2 linked regions of the Homo sapiens genome follow. The protein of the gene in region 2 purifies or fractionates together with the protein of the main gene of each other region. This does not show direct contact. Each region holds a gene or a part of one and is shown on either strand. Other genes may lie near its edges.

Region 1 (3,829 bases), on a different chromosome or scaffold from region 2:
GCCGGACTTCTCTTGTCTATCATGGGCCTTCATGATAGGCAGCTTCCTGTGTTCCAGTTTCCAGTTCCTCCTGCATTAGTGAGGGTGGTCTGTGAAGAGCAAGAGGGCAGGGAATCATGTTAATCTGCTACAGACATTTAAAAACGACATTGTAAAGTGGCTAATTTGGAGATGGAAAACTCCCAGTGATGTGCTGGTAAACTGGGTCTCAAAGCAAACAAACAAGTCTCTGATATGTCCACTTGCCTCTGTCAATGGTGTGAATACTCTCCCATCGTTGATTTTAAGCTACCAATGTGATATCACTGAAGGCAGAGTTGGGAAGAGATGTGCACCGTTAGCTCCTGAGAGCCGATACCAGCCAGCTCCTGCACACCACTGAAAATCCCACTCAAAACAGGAATCTGCGGTATTCCCACTACCACTGAAAGTTATCTACTTTGGGAATTACGCTAGAAATTTGTTTTGTTTAGTTTTGTTTTTAGAGACAGGGCCTCATTCTGTCACCCAGACTGGAGTGCACAGTCATGGCTCACTGCAGCCTCGAACTCCTGGCTCAAGTGATACCTCCTGTCTCAGCCTCCTGAGTAGCTGGGACTACAGATGTGCAGCATCATGCCCAGCTAATTGAATTTTTTTTTTTTTTTTTTTTTTTTTTTTTTTTTTTACAGAAGGAGTCTCTCTATGCTGCCCAGGCTGGTCTCAAACTCCTGGGCTCAAGCAATCCTCCTGTCTTAGCCTCCCAAAGTGCTAGGATTAGGCATGAGCCACCGTGCCCAGCCAGGATATTTTTGAAAACTCTATGCACCCCAACCTCAAGGGGCATCTGTAAGACCTCCATGAGAAGTTTCTTATAGATCTCAACCCTAGCAAAGTCTCTGCTTCACCTAAGGAATTATTTTTTTCCTTACAAATAAAGGAAAATGAGTGACTAACCTTCTTTTTCCTTTGGCTGCCAGGAAACTCAATGCAAAATTATGATTTGATTATATCAACAATATAGGAAATCATGACTTATCTGTATTCCATTACCTTCATCTGCACCTCTTAAGTGGTATTTTCTCTGTTTAATGGTCTTGTGTGTATGTGTGTGTATCTGTGCATTCTGTATGCCATCTCATGCCTTCCATGACAGTACAAATAAATAAGACCCACATTTTTTGAACTTTCTTCTAAATTCCCATTCTTAGCCCCTAATGTATACTCCTTTAGTGTATCTTGCTATAACATTTTAAGGTTGTATTTCTTTTTTCTGTGCTCAGGGTAAATATGTGGTCTGTTTTGATCCCCTTGATGGATCTTCCAACATCGATTGCCTTGTGTCCGTTGGAACCATTTTTGGCATCTATAGAAAGGTAAAACGTGATATCTTAAGCACTTGGTTTGGGGACAGAAGTTAAGATTGAGCATCCAGTCCTATTTCACTGTGGCAGAGCAGCCGGAGTGGAGATCATGAAACTGTGAGACTGAAGTAGATTTGTATCTCAAGTTCTGAGCTTTTCAGCACTAATTGCATGACGAAGACCCACTAGATTGTTGAAAGAGAATATAGGGTAAAATATGGGTGGGAAGAGAAGGATATTTCACTCTTTTTACTATGTCTTACTTTTTATGATAGAAAATGAGATTTAAAAAAGAGGCAGTAGAGGGTAAGTATAGTGATGATACGATGTGAACTCAGAGTTGAGAGTGTAAGACAACAATAGAGACTATGTCAAAACTGTCCTTTAAGTCCCCTAGTCAATGGTCTATAAGCTATGAGCCCCGGGCTGAGTCCAGCCTGTGGCCTAATGTGTACAGCCTGTGAACAAAGAATAACCATTTTTACATTTTTAAATAGTTGAAAAAAACTAAAGAACAAAGTTTCGTGATCCATTTTAAGTTTTACTCTTCACGAATGAAGCTTTAATTGGCATTTGGTCACATTCATTTTTTCACATACTGCCTTTGGCTGATTCTCTGCTGCACTGTCAAAGTTTTGTAGTTATGATAGAGACTGTATGGCCCATAAAACTGAAAAATTTACTATCTGTCTGTCTGTAGAAACAGTTTACTGAGCTTTGCTCTAAGTCGTAGAAAGCACACAGCATAGGATGAGAATCCAGCCCTGCTCGGGTCTCCTAACACCTGACTCGGGCAGTCACCCCTCCTCCAGAGCTGCTTTTTCTGAGAGAGAGAGAGAGAGAGAAAGAGAGAGAGAGAGAGGAGAGAGAGGAGAGGGAGGAGGAGGAGGAGAGGGAGGAGAGGGAGAGGGAGAGGTGCTCAATTATACGAATAAGTGAAAAATAGAATGAAAACCCATCCACCCATCAGGAAACATGATAAAATCCAAGGTACATCCTCTTAGCTTTAGCTCTTGTTTTGTTTTATTTTTTCAAAGTATATATTTTAGGCCGGATGCGGTGGCTCACGCCTGTAATCCCAGCACTTTGGGAGGCCGAGGTGGGTGGATCACAAGGTCAGGAGATTGAGACTGCCTTGGCTAACACTGTGAAACCCCGTCTCTACTAAAAATACAAAAAAACAGCCAGGCATGGTGGTGGGCGCCTGTAGTCCCGGGAGGCTGAGGCAGGAGAATCGCTTGAACCTGGGAGGTGGAGGTTGCAGTGAGCCGAGATCACACCACTGCACTCCAGCCTGGGCAACAGAACAAGACTCCGTCTCAAAAAAAAAAGTATATATATATATAGTTTTAACAGCTTTGGGGGGTACAAATAGTTTTTGGTGACATGAATGAATTGTATAGTGGTGAAGTCTGAGATTTTAGTTTATACCTCACGAGAATAGTATATATTGTATCCAATATGCAGTTTTTTTATCCCTCATCCCCTCCCATCACCCCCTTCTAAGTCTCCAAAGTCTACCATACCATTCTATATTCAGCTCTTGTTTATTTCAGAACTGAAACCTCACAGGCTGGAATCGACTGAAGAGGTTGGTTCAGCTGAACTCTGTTCTAGGACACAAAGGCATTAACTTAAGAACTGAGACCCTTGGCCTAGCGAGATGGCTCACGCCTGTAATCCCAGCACTTTGGGAGGCCGAGGTGGGCGGATCATGAGGTCAGGAGATTGAGACCATCCTGGCTAACACGGTGAAACCCCGTCTCTACTAAAAATTACAAAAAATTAACTGGGCATGGTGGCGGGCGCCTGTAGTCCCAGGTACTCAGGAGGCTGAGGCAGGAGAATGGCATGAACCTGGGAGGTGGAGGTTGCAGTGAGCCAAGATCGCGCTACTGGACTCCAGTCCGGGTGACAGAGCTAGACTCCGTCTCAAAAAAAAAAAAAAAGAACTGAGACCCAAATTTGCACTTTATCTCTAAAAGTGACTTATTGTCTAGTATTATACATAATTTCCTTTCAAATATGTGAAAAGTAGAGCCCCCATGGCACAGTTATCTTTGGTCATTGGAACGTATTTTGCTTTTTATCTTGGGTAAGAGGCAGATCCACATCACAATCAGTTTGAGGAATAGAAGATTCAAATTCTCATACTAGAAAGGCAAAAAGGCAACAATTTATCCATTTTCCAAGTCATGCCAAGGAACATACCATTTCTGTTGTAGACATGGAAGAATGCAATTTTCCTTGCAAAATATCAAATCCACAGAATAGCAGGAGAGGTTTGTAGCAAAATTCTTCCTTGCAGAGGAAGACATCTGGCTAATGTGTTAACCACAACTAAAGCAGTGTTGATGTTTACTAAGCCCATTCTCCATCTCAGTCCCCCCAAATAATACTTTTTAAGGAAAAAAAACCTGGGAAATTGAGAGACATTGGCTATCAACTAAAAAAAAAAAATCAAGCCAGCTTGCAACAGCAGCTTG
Region 2 (3,047 bases):
TAATTTGATTTATTAAAATTTCATGAGTTTTTTCAAATACAGCTCATCATCTTTGGTAGTTTTTTGTTCCTTTTTAATTTGGGCTGTATGTGTGTGATATTCTAAGAAATATTTTATAGCTACTTAGTACACTGTAACTAGTACTGTGATATTAAAGTTTCTGAGTCTACTTCTGTTGGGTTTTTTAATCTTTTTGATCTTGTTCATAGGGACATGATTTGGGTTCACTTTACTGAATTAATTCCATCTGAATACTCAAGTAAATTGGAGATGTTTTCCTCTAGAGAAGATTTGTGTTTGCTTCTACTGGCTGTCAATAATTCAACTAATTTTGGATAACTTTAGTCTCCTGGAAGGTCCTAAATTAATACAGAACACTCCAAATCAGCTCTCCAATTTTACTGACAGCCCAAGATTGATTTCTTCATCTTAGGATTGGTACCGGCATTTGTCTATCGGTCACCTCTGCCTTCCTTGTTCATGTATTCCTCATGGGCCTCAACTCCAGTTTGTGCTCCTCATTTAAAAAAAAATATTGTTTGCTCTACCTTTGGAATTTTCTTTATTTTTCTGGTGAACTCATCAATTATAAAAATTCTGTTTCTTTTAATAAATGTAGCCTCTATTTGCATCTAGCAAGATGATGCTTCAGAATATCCAGTCCAATTTGCTATCTTTTCTGACATTTGTCTTTACTTATGTTTCAGTGATAAATCTGTAGGACGTCAGGGCTAAAATCTGGCTAACATGAGTCATGTCCACTTACCATTTTCTAAGGAGAAAACTATAGAAGAGAATTAACAACATATGATCAAAGGAACTTTACAGTTTATGTAATATTATTTTATTGCCATTTTCATTATATTCAGTAGAAATAGTAGTACTAGAAAGAAGAAAATGAGATTTTAGGAACATAAAACTGGCTTTAGATATTTGAAAATGAGAGGAATTTTATGTTTACAGATTTCAAAAGGCTTTGATATTATATTTCAATGCAAACAGTAACTTATCGTATGATTTGGTTCATTAATAATTGGAGTGATGTTCAGATTTAAACATTTCATAGAATCTCAAATATGACTTCAGGTACCACATTTTACAGGGAAATTACTGTGATTCACCCACTAAATGATAGTGAGTAAATAATAACTGGGATCTGTAACTATAACCTAGGAGTCTTGCGTTCTAGTCTAATAACTGTTCTCAAAAATATCATTAACTTTTTGGGTATAATAAACAGCAAACTGCAGAATAAATTGCACATACTAAAGAGTAAGCAACAAAACAAATTGCACATGCTGTGCAGTATGCAAAGCCACAGAATTATCAATCTGAGAAACAACTGAATACAAAATAAAACACACAGTTGTGTTTTGATTAAGGCTCCTTTTAGGCAGTTTGCTTCAGCCAAGGCTGTGTAACTTCTTTGAGTTTCCATGTACTTTATAAGGCTCTGTTTGAATTCCTTTACTCTTTCATCTGATCCCACAGGTCCACATTTAGACCTCTGTATTAGGCTGTACAACCCATTGGTATAGTGATCACCATTTTTCTCCATCAACAGATCCTCAATACAGTCCATTAGTTCCTTCACTTGGTCATCCTGATTGCTCCCTTCAGCACGGTTATTAAAGGCACAGATTCGCCCACCACATGCTGCCACCAGCTTGCTTAGGGCTTTGTTATCTGAGTCGTGCATGTAATCCATCAGGGAGCCACCATTGAGGTCTTCCTTGTGGGTAAAGAGGACAATTGTGTGTCCCATGGCATCCTCTCCAAAGATCTCCTTCACCCTCTGTGCAGCCTGCTGGTCCTGTGAGGTATAGCGGCCCAGCTGAGTCACCAGGAGCAGCACATGGGGTCCTGGTGCAGACAGCAAGTAGCACCTCTGCACCTCTTTGTACAGAGCTTCACAGTGGTCCTTCCAAGAAAACATATCTGGTGTGTCAATAATGACAATCTCTCTATTTCCCCAGCTTCCCTGACTTTTGCTGCAAGTCTTAGTCAAGGTCTGGGAACCCAGCTTCGATTCAAATGCTTGCTTCCTGAGGATGCTGTTCCCTGCAGCACTTTTGCCAGTTCCTGTTTTGCCCACCAGGATGATTCTCAGCTCAGATCTGCTGGCACATTGGCCCTTTGCATGTGGTCCTGTGAGGAGCAAGTTTACTGTGTTATCGCTACACTGATCACGGCAGTGGAATATTTTTTTTTCCTTTCATTTCTTTTTCTTTTTTTTTTGAGACGGAGTCTCGCTCTGTCGCCCAGGCTGGAGTGCAATGGCGTGATCTCGGGTCACTGCAAGCTCCACCTCCCGGGTTCACGCCATTCTCCTGCCTCAGCCTCCCAGTAGCTGGGACTACAGATGCCCGCCACCGCATCCCGCTAATTTTTTTTTTTTTTGGTAGTTTTAGTAGAGACAGGGTTTCACCGTGGTATCGATCTCCTGACATCGTGATCCGCCCGCCTCGGCCTCCCAAAGTGCTGGGATTACTGGCGTGAGCCACCGGGCCCAGCCGGTAGTGGAATATTTTTAATGATAAGGAGGTATTCCCCGTTATGTAAAAAGATACTCGCACATCTATTTCACGTGAAATGAAAGCTAACTTGATTGCTGTAGGACTGCAGGGTATTGCCATGTTGGAGCCTAGGAAAACATACTTGGGGATGAGATGGATTTAGAGACATTTCTCATCATGTAATGGTTGCCTGAATCACTCAGTCCTGGATCTCTAGAAGAAAAGTTTTCTGGAGATCAGAGATGCGTAGGCAAGGCCATGGGTTCCATCTCAATGTGGGCCAAGTGACCTGGCTCTGTTTCAAGGCCAGAGGTTGCTACTTTGACCTTGGCTGGGCAGAGTGGGGTCATGACTACCAGGGAAGTGGCTGGACCAGCAAAATATTAGAATGAGCAGTGTAAAATTATTTTTATTAGTGAAGAAACAACTGATATCTTATAAAGGATATCATAATTTTGCTTAGAAAGCATGGCATAATTTTGGTATAAAATAGTCACAGAATATGGTAAACTTTCCTCTCTCCTTCCCCAT

What was found.
Region 1: the proteins of GIMAP2 (region 2) and FBP1 purify together in Homo sapiens (affinity purification with mass spectrometry; one large-scale study listed by BioGRID and IntAct). This does not show direct contact.

Annotation. Positions count from the first base shown.
Region 1 is NC_000009.12:94,615,294-94,619,122, reverse strand, and holds part of FBP1 (fructose-1,6-bisphosphatase 1), read left to right. Parts: intron 1-1,262; coding exon 1,263-1,355; intron 1,356-3,829. UniProt on the Homo sapiens protein: Catalyzes the hydrolysis of fructose 1,6-bisphosphate to fructose 6-phosphate in the presence of divalent cations, acting as a rate-limiting enzyme in gluconeogenesis. Plays a role in regulating glucose sensing and insulin secretion of pancreatic beta-cells.
Region 2 is NC_000007.14:150,691,416-150,694,462, reverse strand, and holds the end of GIMAP2 (GTPase IMAP family member 2), read right to left. Parts: intron 2,149-3,047; coding exon 1,163-2,148; 3' UTR 822-1,162; downstream 1-821. UniProt on the Homo sapiens protein: The heterodimer formed by GIMAP2 and GIMAP7 has GTPase activity. In contrast, GIMAP2 has no GTPase activity by itself.